Linked DNA regions of Homo sapiens. The protein of the gene in region 2 binds, or shares a complex with, the protein of the main gene of each other region. Each region holds a gene or a part of one and is shown on either strand. Other genes may lie near its edges. A codon is read from its position in the direction of its gene.

The links.
Region 1: the proteins of KIF15 (region 2) and KIFBP are in contact, whole or in part, in a cryo-EM structure (PDB 6ZPH), measured with the Homo sapiens proteins. Residues at the interface, in NP_064627.1 of Homo sapiens: Leu187, Glu189, Ile191, Lys192, Lys193, Arg231 (codon at 1,685), Glu232 (codon at 1,688), Arg235 (codon at 1,697), Arg271 (codon at 1,805), Met280 (codon at 1,832), Arg281 (codon at 1,835), Leu282 (codon at 1,838), Lys283 (codon at 1,841), Glu284, Ala285, Gly286, Asn287, Asn289, Arg290, Leu292, Ser293, Gly296, Gln297, Ile299, Ala301, Val303, Asp304, Val305, Gly306, His312; in NP_056449.1 of Homo sapiens: Lys26, Tyr33, Lys36, Ile106, Glu109, Ile147, Ser150, Glu151, Glu153, Thr208, His209, Tyr212, Tyr213, Gln216, Gln219, His220, Phe224, Gln238, Glu248, Trp249, Ile251, Asn252, Thr255, Gln258, Phe259, Asn262, Tyr415, Val416, Thr417, Glu421.

What each region holds. Positions count from the first base shown.
Region 1 is NC_000010.11:68,991,803-68,995,402, forward strand, and holds part of KIFBP (KIF-binding protein), read left to right. Parts: exon of another isoform or gene 1-66; intron 67-3,600. UniProt on the Homo sapiens protein: Activator of KIF1B plus-end-directed microtubule motor activity. Required for organization of axonal microtubules, and axonal outgrowth and maintenance during peripheral and central nervous system development.
Region 2 is NC_000003.12:44,792,584-44,796,537, forward strand, and holds part of KIF15 (kinesin-like protein KIF15), read left to right. Parts: intron 1-1,633; coding exon 1,634-1,843; intron 1,844-3,954. UniProt on the Homo sapiens protein: Plus-end directed kinesin-like motor enzyme involved in mitotic spindle assembly.

The DNA.
Region 1 (3,600 bases), on a different chromosome or scaffold from region 2:
TAGTTTTATGCTCCCACCTAAAATTTTTTCACTATTTTTATAAGATGTTAATTTCTTGAGTACTTTATTTATAACATGCCTGTACCTTGGGTAAACCAAGTAAACTTTTTTTTGTCTTAGGCAAAGTTTAGACTGTTCGTATGATGATACACTTTCTTTTTTATGTGGGTTTTTTTTTTTGCTTGTTTTTTATTTTTATTTTTATTTTTGAGACAGAATCTTCCTCTGTTGCCCAGGCTACATAGCAGTGGCACCTTCACAGCTCATTGCAACTTCCACCCTCCTGGCTTAAGCGATCCTTCCACCTCAGCCTCCCAAATAGCTGGGACCACAGGTGCCTGCCACCATGCCCAGCTAATTTTTGTATTTTTAGAGAGACGGTGTTTCACCATGTTGCTCGGGCTGGTCTCGAACTACTGAGCTCAGGCAATTCTACCCACCCCAGCCTCCCAAAGTGTTGGGATTACCAGTATAAGCCACTGTGTCTGGCCTTTTAAAAATTTTTGCATGACTTTTCATCTTTTTATGTGTGTTTCCCATTTGTTTGATATGAGGGAAAAATTTCTAATAGCTTGAGAATCAAGGGGATGGGGATTTTGGTTGTAGGCATTTTATAATAATTAACCCCTTAGCAGTGGTGTAGAAAAATAGGTAAATTTTTTGTTTCAAGACTTAAAACTACCTCAAGAAGAACAATCTAATGTAACAGTATTTGTAACGCTTCCAGAGGTCTCAGATGAGGAATTTTTTTGTAAATGGTTTGGAAGAAGATTAAAATATCCTGGGTTAGCGTAGTAACATTACGGTAGGATCCTTAGGTTGATGCTGACTTTTGTTTGGGGTAAGTTTATATTTTGTGTGGTGTTTATTTACTTTTTTTGAAGAGGAGGATGTAGTAGGAGCAGTGTTACAAATCAGTTTAAGTAATGGAGTAGACCCTGTTGTCAGTGGGGCATAGATGAGTTATGAGGGCTAAAGCTTGCTCTGATGGTCTCTTTTTGTTTTGTTTTCTTTGCTTTTATCTTTTGTTTTACATTTGGGGAGGGGAGAGATTTTCCATTAAGGAAGGTTATTGCTAGTGGATTTGATTCCAAGGGTCTGGGGTGTCACAGTAGGGTTGGGGAGGGGCTGCAGGGTGATCCTTGGCTACTGAACCTCCACAGAGAGCATGTGGTGCCCCTGCCCTTTCAAGATAATTTACTCTCTTGTTAGTTTTGCAGGCCACCTCAGATTCTCTGTTGAATTGCTGTTAAGAAATACAGACCAGTGTTGTTTCTGGGCTCTCGTTGGGTGAGGTTTTCCTGAGTTTTATGTCTCTTCTTAGTTCACATCGTGTTACCCAGAACACATGCTTCACTGTCTTCTGAACAGGCAGTACTCCTGTGGCTCTGTGTCTTGGCTTGTTTAGTTTTTTTCAGCCTTGAAGGCTCCTTCCCACACTTACTGACATCCACTCATGTTCCTGGTATGACCTGGATTGCTGCCTGGTCCCTGCAACCTCCCAATGCCCTTTCTGCTGCATTCCCAGAGCACAGGACTTTTCTCTTTTCTACTGACCTTGCTTGGTTCTCCCTTGTGGGTTAGTAATTTCTGTCTGTCTCTTTGCCCCTCACTAATTGTTCACCCATGAGAATTAGGTATTATTCCTTTTAAATATACAGGGACCATATAGTCTTTATCTTTTATACATGATACTTATTACTCAATTTTGTGTGTGCAAGGTATCTGGCACATGGACCTGTGATTAGTAGCCTGAGGTCAACAAATCTCAGTTAGAATGCGTAGGTTAAACAAAGCTTTTTTTTTTTTAAATTTAATTTAATTTTATCTTTATAGAGATGGGGTCTCACTATATTGACCAGGCTGGTCTCAAACTCCTGGCCTCAAGTGATCCTCACATCTCGGCTTCCCAAAGTGCAAGGATTATGGGCATGAGCCACTGAGCCCAGCCTAAACAAAGCTTTTAAAAGCTCCTGCAACCTCAAGGTTGTTAACCTGGTCATCTCATGGTAATTAGAAACTCTGATTGGCTGCTTTAGATTTCTTGATTAAAAACCTAAGTAAACTGATTAAGTTTTAGGCATTCTTTCAAAGGTTTCTCAGTGAAAAGATTGGGAACTATTCTATTTGGTGCTTTGTGAAAATATTTTGAATTAGTATATGTGCCAGTTATTGCCATTTCTTAAGTCCAAAATGTTTTTCTGGTCAAATAAATAGCAGTTTTTCAAAAACAAAAATTAGCTGTGTGTGGTGGCATGCATGTGTAGTCCCAGCTACTCAGGAGGCTGTGGGAGGACTGCTTAAGCCTGGGAGATCAAGGCTGCAGTAAGCTAAGATGGTGTCACTGCACTCCAGCCTGGGTGACAGAGTAAGACCCTGTCTCAGAAAAAAAAAAAATTTATAGAATGATCCTATTTTTGTATAAGACTAAGTATACACACACACACACATACTTACATTATATATACACATATAGTAAAAAGTTTATATACATGTGAATATATACAAATACGTATGTATGTGTGTGTATATGGAAGAGTTTTGCAAGTATCAGTTAATGGGAATTCATGATATTCTAACTGCTTTGTCTTAATCTGGTGTATTCTCCTTGGGGAACTACAGAACTTGGCTCTATATTATTTATCAAAAGAGATTGATATTACATTAGATTATCAAGAGATTTCTGTCTTCTCTGGGTTCCAGTGCCTTAGGAATAATTTTTATCTGGTATTCCTTCTGATCCTTGTTATCACCAGTACACACTGGCACTACCATCTTGATTACTTCACTTTAGTAAAATTTCCTAGGAAATTAGTAGATTGCTGTCCCCACTCCAGGTTATATATGTATAGGAGTACTTTTTGTTGTTATTGTTCACAGATTCATTGAGTTGCAATTGGCATATAATAAACTGCACATATTTTTAAGGGTACAGTTTGATGAGTTTTGACATATATATTTATACCTGTGAAACAATCACTGCAATCAAGATATGAACATATCTGTCACCACCAAAAGTTTTCTTGTGCTCCTTTGTAGTCCCTCCCTCTCTCCTATATTCTTTTCCTCCCTTCTGCTTGCCCCCAACCCTGCATTTTGTAGAATTTTATTTTATTTTAGAGACAGGGTCTTACTATGTTGCCTAGGCTGGCCTCAAACTCCTGGGATCATGTGAACCTTTCACCTCAGCCTCCTGAATAGCTGGGACTATGTAGAAATTTTATTTTATTTTTGAAGACGGGGTCTGGCTCTGTCACCCAGGCTGGAGTGCAGTGGTGGGATTTCGGCTCACTGCAACCTCTGCTTTCTGGGCTCAAGCCATCCTCCCACCTCAGCCTCCTAAGTAGCTGAGACTACAGGGTCACACCACCACGCCCAGCTAATTTTTGTATTTTTTGTAGAGGCAGGGTTTCACCATGTTGCCCAGGCCTCAAGTGATTCGCCTGCGTTGGCCTCCCAAAGTGCTGGGATTACAGGTATGTGCCACTGTACCCAGCCTATGTAGAATTTTATATAAATGAAATCATATTGTATATACTCTTGTTTTGGTATACCTTTTTTCCACTCAACATCGTTATTTCATTCTGTATCTACTGAGCT
Region 2 (3,954 bases):
TTGCCCAGGCTGGAGCGGAATGGCCCGATCTTGGCTCACTGCAACTTCTACCTCCCGGGTTCAAGCGATTCTCCTGCCTCAGCCTCCCGAGTAGCTGGGACTACAGGTGCATGCCACCACACCCGGCTAATTTTTTATATTTTTAGCGGAGACGGGGTTTCACCGTGTTAGCCAGACTGGTCTCGGTCTCCTGACCTCATGATCCACCCACCTGGGCCTCCCAAAGTGCTGGAATTACAGGCGTGAGCCACCGTGCCCTGCCAACAGCTATGATTTATTGAGTGAAGGTGCCAAGCACTGTGCTAACTTCTTTTGTATACATTATTTTACTTAATTTTCAATATGCCCTTTGAGATAAAGACACTAATTTCCCCATTTTACCCTATATATACTGTTACCCTCCTACCCAAAATGTGGTCCTCAGAACATCAGCATCACCTGAGAGCTTGTTAGAAATGCAAAATCTCAGGCCCCACCTCACACTGAATCTGAATCTGAATTTTAACAACATCTGTAGATGATTCATATGCACCTAAAACTTATATGTTCTGTTCTATGGGATAGGTACCCATATTCCCATTTTACAAATATGAAGGCTGAGGCTTGAAAAGGTTCAGCTGGCCCCAGACCTCGCCTAGTAAATAGTGGAGCCATGGTTTGAACTCATATGCATCTGATTCCAGAGCCTGCATTCTGAACTTTCATGTATCCTGCTTGCCATAGGGAATAGAAGGGAAAAAATACTTTGTAGACCAAAAGCTTACAAAACTTTGGGCTTAAAGATAATTTACAGATTTTTCCTGTCCAACATTCTCATTTTCTAGGTAAAGAAATGGGTTCAGAGAGGTTTTGTGATTTACATTAGGTTAACACAAATAAAGCGTGGCAAAACCAGTTCTAGATCCTATGCGCTCTGATTTCCTGTTTGTTCTGTTTCTGTAATGTGGAAAGGGAACACAAAGGAAAGGAAAATAACTTCAGCTTATTCCTTAATGGACCAGTAATCTTTCTCACCACCCTTTACAAATTTCCTACTGATTTTGGTGGCTGTTGTGTACCATTTGGAACTTGGGATAATATAATTTATCTTATAAAGCTAGATAACAATGGAAGGCAATAGATACTCCTCACCCCTGTTCTAAATAGAAAATATGCTTTATGTAAATATATTTCTTTTTCCCTATGAAAGTAGATAATTAGCTGTATGTTAGTATTTTTCATAATAAAATGAGTGATTCTCAAGTGCTTATTTTACATTTTAAGTGTACCTATTCTTGTTCCTTTTTTTTTCTCTTTTCCTTTTTTTTTTTTTTTTAAGATAGGATCTTGCCCTGCTGCTCAGGCTGGAGTGCAGTGGCACAATCATGGCTCACTGCAGCCTTGAATTCCTGGGCTCAAGAGATCTTCCCACCTCAGCCTCCCGAGTAGCTAGGACTACAGGTTCCTGCCACTGTACATAGCAAATTATTATTTTTTGTAGAGGTGAGGTCTCACACTATGTAGGTCAGGCTGGTCTTGAATTCCTATCCACAAGTGATCCTCCAGACATGGCCTCCCAAACTGCTAGGATTACAGGCATAAGCCACTGTAACTGGTCCTCTCATTTCTTTTAATATGTTTTCCTTTTGCATAGGTGTTGTCTGGAGGATGGAGGAATAGACGTGTGGCATCAACATCAATGAACAGAGAATCGTCTAGGTCTCATGCCGTCTTTACAATTACAATAGAGTCAATGGAGAAAAGTAATGAGATTGTGAATATACGGACCTCCCTACTCAACCTGGTGGATTTAGCAGGATCTGAAAGGCAAAAAGATACCCATGCAGAAGGGATGAGATTGAAGGTAAGAATGAAATTATGGTCTTCAACTTGTGTGTGAGTTCTTACTAGCAGTCAATACAGTCGTGATGCATGACAGTGTCTCAGTCAATGAGGAACTGCATTTATGATGGGGGTCCCTTAAGAGTATAATAGCTATACCACATGGCTTAGGTATGTTGTAGGCTATACCATCTCGGTTTGCATAAGTATATTCTATGATGCCCACAAAACAATCAAATTTCCTAACAGCACATTTCTTAAAATGTACCCCTGTTAGCCGGGCGCGGTGGCTCACACCTGTAATCCCAGCACTTTGGGAAGCTGAGGCAGGTAGATCACGAGGTCAGGAGATCGAGACCATCCTGGCCAACGTGGTGAAATCCCGTCTCTACTAAAAAAATACAAAAGTCAGCTGGGCGTGGTGATGCGCGCCTGTAGTCCCAGCTACTTGGGAGACTGAGGCAGGAGAATCACTTGAACCTGGGAGGCCGAGGTTGCAGTGAGCTGAGATCGCGCCACTGCACGCCAGTCTGGGTGACAGAGAGAGACTCTGTCTCAGAAAAAAAAATGTATCCGTGTTGTTAACTGATATATGACCATACCAAGCTAAGTGTTTTGAGGGTGGCAAAGAAATAAGAAATTGTTCCTATTGAAAAGGAACAGAGATTTCTTTTGTGGAACAGTGAACATAGATGGGATAGGGCAAGTCTGTCAGTAGCAAAAATGTTTTAATTCATACCAGAGGGGATAAGGGTACAAGAGACAACAGGGGTCAGAGGAAGAAGGGTGCAATATGGACTGCTTGTGGAACATGTGGAAAAGAAGTAGTTCTTGACTTGTGAAGGATTTCGGTAGGGAGAGAGAAACAGGAAATGCATGCCTGGCAGGGGGGCATCTCAAGGGTTATTGTGGATGCAGAATGAGTGTAGCATTTGGCATTTCAGCATGGCTCAATGGATGGGTTGGTTAGAGAGGCAAGCAGGCCCGGATTATCAAGGACCAGGAGTGCCAGGCCAAGTTTGTATCAACTCTGCGAATACTGGGAAACACTTAACATTTCTTAGCAACTAAGTGATTCATGAAGAAAGCCTGTTTTATAGAAACTTAGTCATCTGACCCACTGCTGTTAAGATTTTAGAAGGGAGAGCCCACAGAAAAAGATGACCACTTACGCTGTTTAATATTTCAGGTATGAAGGGTTAAGTATCTAGTCCTAGGCTAAGGTATCAACAGTGGGACCAGAGGTTCTATGTAATATGTATTGTCAATATGTGTTTATATATATATATATATAGTAATACGAATTGTCAATAAAATATTTGTAGAGTCTATAGTTTAGAATATACATGGGCAAGGGGAGAGGAATTGGAAAGGATGAGGGAAGAGATCTACTTTTTTCATTAAAAGTGAGGATTTGAGTCGCCTGACCTACATTTGAGGCAGTTTCAGGCAATCTGAAGCTCATATTTTTTTGTTTTGAGACAGTCTCACTCTGTCACCCAGCTGGAGTGCAGTGGCATGATCTCGGCTTACTGCAACCTCTGCCTCTCTGGTTCAAGCAGTTCTTCTGCCTCAGCCTCCCAAGTAGCTGAGATTACAGGCGCCCACCACCACACCCAGCTAATATTTTGTATTTTTAATAGAGATGGGGTTTCACCATTTTGGCCAGGCTGGTCTTGAACTCCTGACCTCAGGTGATCCACCCTCCTTGGCCTCCCAAAGTGTTGGGATTACAGGCGTTAGCCACCACGCCCAGCCTAAAGCTCATATTTCTATTGAGATATGAGGCTTAATAAATATAGCATATGGGTTGAGCATGGTGGCTTATGCCTGTAATCCTAGCACCTGGGAGGCTGAGGTGGGAGGATCCCTCGAACCCAGGAGGTCGAGATTGCAGTGAGCTGTGATTGTGCCACTGTGCTCCAACCTGGGTGACAGAGTGAGACTCTGTGTCAAAAAAAGCATATGCTTATAATAGGACATATACCAAGTCTGTTCTAAAATGCTTTACATATATTAATTCATTTAACCTTCCCAACAACTCTGGGAAGTAGGTGCTATTCTTTCTATTTTACAGTTAAAGAAACCGAAGTCACACAGCTAATAAAGGTAGAGCTGAGATTCAAACCGAGC